Regions from separate parts of the Homo sapiens genome. Here region 1 is linked to region 2. Evidence: fine-mapped expression QTL. A gene starts in region 2. The other region holds a variant in brackets. All regions are shown on one strand. Distances are between the middles of the regions. Region 1 overlaps FBXW8 (F-box and WD repeat domain containing 8). Region 2 holds the start of FBXW8 (F-box and WD repeat domain containing 8).

Region 1 (5,534 bases), 56 kb before region 2:
TTATTTGAATCTGTCTTTGCCCAAAAGTAGCTATTCACGAAAATGTTAGTGTAAATATCATAGTGTCGATCTGTTAAACTGAAGGGGGACCAAAGGTAACGCCACCTGACGTCTGGGGAAAGAATAGAAGTTGTTGTTTATCACAGAAACAGTAACAACCCGAATCAGACCAATGAAACAAGCTCAGCATGAGAGGGGAGCAGGGAAACACAAGGGCTCTAAAAAAGGAAGAGCCCTTAATACCAAAATGAACTTGAAACGAATCAAAGATTTCAATGGAAACACTGCAGCCTTGGAAGCACTTATAGATTTTACCCAGGCGTTGAGTAATCATCTTCCCAACCATGACGTGAAACCCCAAAGGACAAGACTGACAAGCTTGATGTAAATTTAAGCTGCCAGACAGACCAACTGAAACAGAGCACAAAGTTCAGAAACAGACCCAGATACAAAGTGAATTTCATAGCTAAAAGCTTATAAAGGCAGCACCTCAAACCAGTTAGGTAGAAATGGGCTCTCCGAGAAGAGATGCTGGAAAAAAGATGTACTTGGAACCATACTGCATGCTAATCCAAGACGAACTTGTCAAGATAAAAATATAAAAAATAAGCCATAACAGTAACAGAAGAAAAAGAAAGAACTACAAGTAGCAGGTACACATTTTTTTTTTAATTTAACCTTTCTCACATTAAGAGAAATGTAAATTAAAACTACACTTGGTGACCATTTCTTCTCAAACTGATGAATACCCAAAAGCTGGAAACATACTTTGTTGGCAAAACTGTGAGGAAGCGGGCACACTCTCATGGCTTGCTGGTAAGAGCATAAAATAGTAAAACCCCACTTGCATTTACCCTGTAACCCAGAAAACAATCCTCCTTGCACTTGTGTGAAATGTCATCTTTACAAGGTTTTTCACTACAACACTGTAACGGCAAACACAACACAACTGTCCTTCAATAAACCAAAGTGCTTATACACAATGGAATTACCATTCAGGTGTGCAAACGGGGTACTCTCTCTACACAGACATGCACTCCCTTTTAAGATATGCTATTTAGAGAAAAAAGCCAAGGTGTGGAATCATGTAAAGTAAATAGTATGCTATCTTTTGTTTTTTAAAAAGGGGGCAATAAGAATATACACACTCATATTTTCTTGTACTTGTAATACTAAAATACAAGGATATACAAGAAAGTAAAAAATATGGTTACTTCAGAATGGAGCAGACAAAAGTGGGTGGCAGCAAGATTTCTCAATATATAACTTTATATTATTTTGATCTTTGAACCCTAAAAATGTAGTAATCAAAAACATTAAATTACAAAATAACCCCACTCACTTTTAGATTAAAAAATTAACATTGTTCACACATACCAAGTACCTTCTAGAAAACAAGTCCATTAAAGAATAAATGACAAGCCAGGCGCGGTGGCTCAAGCCTGTAATCCCAGCACTTTGTGGGGGCCAAGACAGGCAGATCACTTGAGGTCAGGAGTTCGAGACCAGCCTGACCAACATGGTGAAAGCCCAGCTCTACTAAAAATATAAAAAATTAGCTGGGCGTGGTGGCAGGCGCCTGTAATCCCAGCTACTCAGGAGGCTGAGGCAGGAGAATCGCCTGACCCCAGGAGACGGAGGTTGTAGTGAGTCGAGATCGCACCACTGCACTCCAGTCTGGATGACAAAGCCAGACTCTATCTCAAAACAAACAAAAAAGAATAAGTGACTTACGGAAAAAATATCGGAAACACATATGGCAAGGATTATTTCCCAAGCTTTCTTTTCAACCAGAAAAGATGACAACCCAAAAGAAAAATGAAGAAAGACAGGAACAAACAATTTGCAGAGAAAGAAATAGAAACAGCTAACAACACACAAAGAAAAGATGTCCACATGTAATTAAAGAAAGGCAAACAAAGACAATAAAATGCCATTTTTACCTGTCAGTCACTCTCACATACTTTTGGTGACACTATAAACTGGTGAAACCTTTTTGGAGGGCAATTTGGCAATAGTTATCAAAGCCTAAAGCAGCCAAAGCCTGCAGCCATAGCCTCCAACCTAGCAATCACTAGCACCTCACCCCAGGGCCACCCTTGGACAAGTCCATCCTGGCATTTGTTCAAGTATATTGCTTGCAGCACTGTTTTCAATAACAAAAATGAACAACTCAAATGTGTATCAATGAGGACCCTAATAAATAAATGATGGTACAGCCACATAATGCAGTACTACACAGGCATTAAAAAGAATAAGGTTTACCCTGTAAGTGTGAACACGGAAGATCACCAAGATGTGCCATTAGGTTATTAAAAAAAAAAAAAAAGGTGCAGAGAAGTATACAGAGCAGGACCCCCCACGAGTAAAATGCGAGAGGGCCTGGAAGTGGGACAGGGAGGAATACCTCGACTTCTTTTTGCATACTTTTTCTTTGTCATTTTATATACATTTTTGCTCTGTTTGAATTCTAACTATGACTTTAAAAAAAAAAAGAATTTAAAATACATTTTGGCAATCACTTGCGAAGCATTTTACCAAAGAAAGCAGATTCTTAGCCTGGCCAACATGGTGAAACCCCGTCTCTAGTAAAAATACAAAAATTAGTTGGTTGTTGTGGTGGGCAC[T/C]CATAATCCCAGCTACTCGGGAGGCTGAGGCAGGAAGGAGAATCACTTGAACCCGGGAGGCAGAGGTTGCAGTGAGCCGAGATGGTGCCACTGCACTCCAGCCTGGGTGGCACAGCAAAACCCTGTCTCAAAAAAAAAAAGTAGATTCTTTATCATGCCTACATTGTTTCCCAACATTTCTGTGCAACAACAGGGGATGAGGGCAATGAAGACAATTCTCACAATATAAAACCAGCAGCAGCACCCCTGCACATCACCTCAAGCTGTATTTTCAAGCTCACGAGATGTGAGACATGGGCTGCAAATCAATTGGGCGCACATTTCTACAAGAGTCTTTATGTTCAGGATTCCACAAACAGCACGACCACCGCAGCACGGCCCTGGAGACACAATCACAGTTCTGGATTCACTGCTGACTTCAACCTACCTGGCTTCTTTGCACCTCTGTTTCCCCATCTGTAGAAGAATATGTGTGTGCATGTTCGTGTGTGTGAATGGTAGGGAAAGGCTATTAGATGATCCTAAAACTATATGATTCTAACTTAAAAGTACTGCAATCTTTGCATAGGTATTTTGGAAACAAAACTCATTGATAATTTGGAAAGTAGCAAACATGTTCAAGCTGCTCTTATGGTATCTATCCAGGGTCTCAATAAACATATGAAATATTAATTATACCACAGAAACAGCTCAGCTGAATTTCTATAGGCTGAAAAGGAAATCCATCAGTAGTGTCTACTAACATCAAACCAACATCACGTTGCTAAAGTAATTATATAAAATATAAAAATATTTTCAAGGCCAGGTGCAGTGGCTTATGCCTATAATGCTAGCACTTTGGGAGGCTGAAGCAGGTGGATAGTTTGAGCTCAGGAGTTCAAGACCAGTCTGGACAACACGGCAAAACTCCATCTCTTAAAAAAAAAAAAAAAAAAATTAGCTGGGCATGGTGGCATGCGCCTGTAGTCCCAGCTACTCAGGAGACTGAGGTGGGAGGATCACTGGATCCCGGGAGGTTGAGGATGCAGTGAACTGAGATAGTGCCACTGCACTCTAGCCAGGGCAAAAAAGTGAGACCCTGTCTCAAATATATATAGGTATGTATGTAAGATCTCAGCCCTAATTTTTATTTTTAAACAGCACATGGGTATAAAATTCCCCATTAGCTACTTTAGTTTTGTTCCTCTGAGCCAACTGCTAATGTCACACTGACTCTGAAGATTTGCAGTGGTGCCATGACATGAACACTTAACATTCTGAAATATGCTGTGGTCCCAACTTTTGGGCAAGTGGGGACATGAAGCTTGTGGAGATTCAACACTTCACAACATAACGGAGGATAGGAGCATGACAGGTGGGCATACTGGATATCATGGCCATTGAAATGACCATTTCTAGTAGTTATACGCTGTCAAGAGTTTCTTTGCATAGATAAAGCTAACTTTAGACTATTCGTACCTAGTTCCAAAAATCCATAGTTGTTCATGTACAAAAAGAATTCTATCAATGTCAAAGAGAAAACATATTATTACCAATTATCTGGTATGGTATATTAAGTGACAGGAAAAGGTAGGCACTGACTTTTATTTTTCTATAACTACATTTATCAATAGATGACCTATGTCTATCCCCTTTTCACTATTCCCTTTGGGCTGAGCAGAGGCTAAAGGAAAAGTAGGCCAAGTATATTTAATATTTTACATCAAACAAGTTATTTGCTTAAGATGCTTTGGCCAGCCTTGTGTCTGGCACTAGCGCCCAGCCTGACAGTTCCAGTAGGAATTAAACACCAGTTTTAATGGGTGCTGTGTTCCAATGCCTACTAATGCATTGACGGTTGTTGGCCAACTTCTTCAAATAAAAGCAAGAGTGAGTGTATGTGTGTGAACATGTGTGTGTGCCCACGTGTACATATGGAGGGATTACAGGGGGGAGCCGGCCACAGCTGCTTAATTTTTGTAAAGCTTTTTTTTTTCCTTAATAGGGAGGAGGGTTGTGGTTACTTACCATCCTCATAAGCTGCTACTGCCAACGAGCTGTTTATCCTCACAAAGGAGACATTTGGCTGCATTCCAGGCTCATCCTCCTCGTCCTCTGATTCCAGGAAGGGGGCTACGTAGTCCCAGGTGCGGGTGTCCCACACTCTCACATCCCCTGATGTATATCTGGAAGAGAACGACACACTTGGTTCCAAAAGGAGATTGAAGAGCAGGGCTATGGTGGGGAAAATGCACAGAGCCTTACAACAACAGACAAGTAAGAATCGGGTGGTGTAGAGCCACTGCTGAGGCACTGTTTAGATGAGTGACTCCAACAGGAGAAAATGTCAACTAGATGACAGAAGGCTGTGAACACGCTTCACATTCTCACAGCACAATGGTGACAATTTCAAATGAGAAAACAATAATAAGACATGGGTAGCAAGATCTCCTTGCTTTTCCTTTTACACTATTACAACAATCTGCTCCTGCAAGCTCTCCCACTACAGGGATCACTTGCAGAAATTTGTATAAGCCCCACTATTTACCCACAAACGCACACACTCACTCACAGGAAAGACAGAGAGAGATGCTGCAGGGATACTCAGAACTAATGGTCTCACAGGCACAGGCTTTCTAATACCTCATCCATGCATCAGATTTGACTGATTAAAGTCCCTGAAGACTAATTGATTTGCTGAAACAATTAAATCTTGCCTTTAGCAGCCAGACAGTGCTGCCTGCTCATGAAAAGCTCTTGCTGAATGCGCGACACTGCCCGGTTTTGCCCACTTAGAAAATAGAAGTACTCACTCTCTCCTATGACTAGTGCCACTCCAACAAATGACTGCTTCCATCAAAGCCAGGCCAGGCCGAACCTACTCAGACTTGAGGCCCCCAGGATGACAGAATGGCCAGATGATAAAGT
Region 2 (5,000 bases):
ATGAAGGCAATGAGAATGATGGCCTTTGTGATGAGCCACTTTCACTTAATGAATAGTAAATACATTTTCTCTTATAATTTTCTTAATGACACTTTCTCCTCTAGCTTACTTTATTATAATGCTACAGTATATAACACACAGAAGATACAAAATATGTGTTAACTGACTTATCTATAAGGCTTCTGGTCAACAGTAGGCTATTCGTAGTTAAGTTTTGGGAGAGTCAAAAGTTATACACAGATTTTTGACTGCAAGGAGGTCAGTTCTCCTAACCCCCCAGGTTGTTCAAAGGTCAACTGTACATGATTTGCTTCTTTACTATTTTTGGCATCAATGCCTATACCTCTAAGGTGTTACAAATGGAAAGCCTTGAGAATCAGGACCTTAAACCAAAGGAGGCTATACAGTAGAGTATAATGTCTTAAACTTGCCTGATCATACCAGTCATCAGATTTCAGGGCCCCTTCCCTGGTGATGGAGTTAGCAGGTCTGGGGAGGGCCCAGAACCTATATTATAACCAAGCCTCAAGTGATTCTTATGCCAACTCAAGTTCACGTGGTGAAACTTGGAGTTGAAAAGACCTGGATCCAAATTCAATCCCCAGAATCTATCAGTGGGGTAATGCTGGGCAAGTTACAGAGAATCTCTGAGTTTCTTCATTTGTAAAAGGAGAGTTAAAATCTACCTCACAGGATTGTTATATTCGAATTAGGGCAGAGCACAGGACTAAACACTTGGTAAAAACTCAAATAGTAGCTATTAATGCTATTTGAGTAAACTACATATTACATAAAATAATAGGCCATTATTTCTTGAAACAGCTTGCCACTTAAAAGAATTATTCTCGGCCGGGCGCGGTGGCTCACGCCTGTAATCCCAGCACTTAGGGAGGCCGAGGCGGGCGGATCACGAGGTCAGGAGATCGAGACCATCCTGGCTAACACAGTGAAACCCCATCTCTACTAAAAATACAAAAAGAAATTAGCCGGGCGTGGTGGTGGGCGCCTGTTAGTCCCAGCTACTGGGGAGGCTGAGGCAGGAGAATGGCGTGAACCTAGGAGGCGGAACTTGCAGTGAGCCGAGATCGCGCCACTGCAACTCCAGCCTGGGCGACAGAGCGAGCGAGACTCCGTCTCAAAAAAAAAAAAAAAAAAAAAGAATGATTCTCAATTGGGAGGATCACTTGGGCCCAGGAGTTTGAGACCAGACTGGGCAATACAGGGAGACCTTGTCTCTACCAAAAAATTTAAAAAATTAGCTGAGTGTGGTGGCGCATGCGTGTAGTCCCAGCTACGCGGGATGCTGAGGGAAGAGGATGGCTTGAGCCAGGCAGTTTGAGGCTGCAGTGGGCCGGGAGAGCAACAGTACACTCTAGCCTGGGCAACAGAGCAAGACCCTGTCTCAGAAAAGAAAGAAAGAAAGAAAAAAAAAAAAAAACAGGAAAAAAAAAAGTGGGTTCCCAATTGTAAAGCTGTAGGGACTTCCTTTGGGCCTAATTTAAATCAAACCATTAGAACCTGGAGCCTTGTCCTCTTAACCTGGGAGCCACGGATGCATTTCAGGTGTTCTTGATTTTCCCAACTTTCTGAAGGGGATTATTTTTAACGGACACAGGGTCCCCAGCTTCCTCCAGATTCTCCAAGGTATCCACGCCCCACAAAAAGATAAGAAACTCTATCCTAATGAAAGTGCCCAGGAGATTCTTCCTCCTCTTCTTCCTTTTTTTCTGAGATAATTTTTTTGAATACGTGCACGGTTACAAAAATTAAATAGTGCAAACAGTATACAAAGGTAAAATTACTTCCTATCCATCATCTGGGTCCTCCTTTTCAAAGGCAACCTTTGTTCAAAGTTTAGGTAGCCTTCAAGAGCAGGATTTCTCAACCCCACACTTACTGATATTTTGTCCTGGATAATTTTTTTGTGCGTGGTGTCCTGTACACTGTAGGATGTTCAGGAGCATCTCTGGCCTCTACCCACTAGATGCCCAGTAACATGCACACATACACACCCCGATGAGGCACCCAAAAATGTCTGCAGACACTGCCACATCTGGGGGAACAAAATCGCCCTGGTTGGGAAGTGCTGCTTCCAGAAAGACCCCTATGCAAGCACAAACATTGGTGTTTGTGCGTCTACTCATTTTCTCGGGCAACTAGTGGCACACAGTTACTCTCCAAATCACTGCAGGGGTTTGTCCTGGGGGCGGGGGCCGGCGCAGGCATGGGCGGGGGGGAGGCGACGGCCACTCACCAGGTCGCGGATGAGCTGGTCCACCAGCTGCTCCCCGCCCCCGGCGCCCTCGCGGGCCAGAGGAGAACGTGAGCGGCTCGCTACGTCCTGCCCCTCGGCCCGAGTCGCCCGCGCCGCCGGGGGCCTCCCCGCGCCCTCCAGGAGACGCTGGGCCAGCGCCGGGTCCCCCGAGGCCTGTTCGCCGCGCCCGGAGCCCACCTCCGGCCGCCGAGCCCGCCTCTCGGCAGCCTCGGGCCGTCGCCGCTTCTTCGGCGCCTGGGCCTGCGCCAGCTCCTCCTGCCAGCGCCGACGGAACTCATCCAGGCTGTAGTCGTCCATATTCGCCGCTCCCGGCGCTCCACGTTCTCCTCGGTTCCACCGGGTGCCACGAGACAGTCCCGCCCAGGGAAGTGTCCGCCGCGGCCGGAAGCCGCTGCCGCCGCCGCTCTAGGGTTCCGGGTGGGCGTCCACGCCCCCGCCACGCCCCCGGCGCTGCCCCTGTACGCACGTGGTGGTCCGGCTTGTGGCTTGTGGCGCCCAAAGCAGAGGTTTACGCAGCTGCCCCTCAGCCCGTCAGCTCTGCTGCCTATCACTTTTGCTAAGCTCTGACTTTGCGCCAAGCATTGTTCCTTCATTCAACAAACATTCATTCAGCAACTACTATATGCCAGGCACCAAGAATTCAGCATTTAAATCTGTAAAACAAAACAAAAACTCTGACGTCTTGGAGCATGCGTTTAAGTAGGGAGACTTTAAACAAAGAAATATGAACATTTAAATCAGTGATAGGTATTAGGAAGAAAACAAAATAAGGTAAGGTAAGGGGAGTAAGGATTGATAGTGAAAGTCTGTTTAAGATGTTATTTAAATTAAAATCTAAAAGAGAATCAACAGGTGGATAAAGAAACTGATATATACATATGGTGGAATACTACTCAGCCATAAAAAAGGAATGAATTCATGGCATTCGTAGCAACCTGGATGGGATTGGAGACTATTATTCTAAGTGAAGTAACTCAGGAATGGAAAACCAAACATCGTATGTTCTCACATATAAGTGGGAGCTAAGCTACGAGGATGCAAAAGCATAAGAATGACTTATGGGACTTTGGAACAGGGGAGGGGGACGAGGGGAGGGTGGGAAGGTGGGGAGGGATAAAAGACTATAACTTGGGTTCAGTGTATACTGCTCGGGTGATGCGTGCACCAAAATCTCACAAATCACCACTAAAGAACTTACTCATGTAACCAAATACCACCTGTTCCCAATAACCTGTGGAAATAAAAATTTTTTTTTAAAAATCTGAAAGAGAAACCAGCCAAGGGAAGGTCAGATCTTAGGAGAGAGATTTCCAGAAGGAAATCCAAGGGCTTTAAGATGGGAAAGAAAATGACATACGATGGCGTTCCACTTAAAAATGTTTTCTTTGCACCTGATATTCCCTCAGCAGGGAACTTTTCCCCCCACCTTGACTTGGTTAACTCCTACACATCTTTCATATCTCAACTCACATTTCACTTAATCTTCCAACCTCCACTCAAGAAACATCAGGTATCCCTGTTACTCATTCTCACAGCATCCTGTACTTCTCATCATAATACATAACACAATTTGTAATTTTATTTTTATGTATATATATATATCCCTTCCCTTCTAGATTGGCAACTCTTAGCTTTGAGACTGGTGATTAATACATGCTCAATAAATGGTTTTTTGTTTGTTTGTTTGTTTGGTTTGTTTTGTTTTTGAGACGGAGTCTCGCTCTGTTGCCCAGGCTGGAGTGCAGTGGCGCGATCTCGGCTCGCTGGAAGCTCCGCCTCCCGGGTTCACGCCATTCTCCTGCCTCAGCCTCCTGAGTAGCTAGGACTACAGGTGCCCGCCACCACACCTGGCTAAGTTTTTGTATTTTTAGTAGAGATAGGGTTTCACCATGTTGGCCAGACTAGTCTTGAACTCCTGACCTCAAGTGATCCACCCACCTCAGCCTCCCAAAGTGCTGGGGTTACAGGTGTGAGCCACCACTCCAGGCTCAAAGATGCTCTTGCAATTAACTGTCCCTTATTCCTTGTCTAACTCTTCTTAGTCTCTCAGGCCTCTTCTCTAGAATCACTTCTGTAAATAAACTAGCTGCCTACAAACCCAGGGCTCAGGCTTGCTTACTGTGGGAAACCAGGCTTGGACAACCTTCACTGTAGAAAATTAGAGTATATGGTTGGGCGTATATTCACACCACTACACTCCAGCTTGGGCGACAGTGCGAGACTCTGTCTCAAAAAAACAAAAAAAAGAAAGAGCATCTCTGAGTTGGTCCTACTGTGGCAATTTAGGCTCATTCCATTAGCACCTTCTAAGGAGCCTTAGAACACAGCTCAGAATTGTCCTCCCAAGAGATAAGAGCCAGAAGAGGAAAGCATTTGTCCAGTGACTCTCATCCCCTACTAGAGAAAGGCTAAGCCAAGGAGCTTTAACAACCTCCCACTTCTAGATTGGGTATAAGTAAACGGATTATCATGGATGTTCCGTACCAAGGCAGCAGAGATGCTCTGGGGCAAAAAGCAGGAGGTACACTGTGCAGCTAACAGGAACGACTGTCAGGTTACACGTGCACAAAGCCAGTTGCTACAGCAGTGACTAAGGTAAAAGATGAGTGAAGTGATGCAAGATGGAACATAAGCATCCAATACAAGTAAGCATTCTCTTTTTTTTCCGTAAAGGTTTTATTATACACAGAAGGGGAAGAAGTCTCAGTTCTTCTTGGCAGCCATT

The links. PIP is the estimated chance that this variant, and not a neighbour inherited with it, causes the effect.
Region 1: its variant is fine-mapped to the expression of FBXW8 in tibial artery (GTEx, PIP above 0.99).

The regions. Positions count from the first base shown.
Region 1 is chr12:116,963,955-116,969,488 of GRCh38, reverse strand. It overlaps FBXW8 (F-box and WD repeat domain containing 8), which reads right to left. Exons shown (of 11, transcript NM_153348.3): 5 at 4,635-4,792. Among named protein-coding and RNA genes, the nearest start is that of FBXW8, 56 kb to the right of the region's middle. The variant T/C (reference allele first, on the strand shown) is at 2,628.
Region 2 is chr12:116,908,610-116,913,609 of GRCh38, reverse strand. FBXW8 (F-box and WD repeat domain containing 8) reads right to left here and starts at 2,660. Exons shown (of 11, transcript NM_153348.3): 1 at 2,255-2,660. The coding sequence starts at 2,572. It also overlaps the pseudogene RPL36P15. RefSeq lists silencers at 2,193-2,452, 2,613-2,832.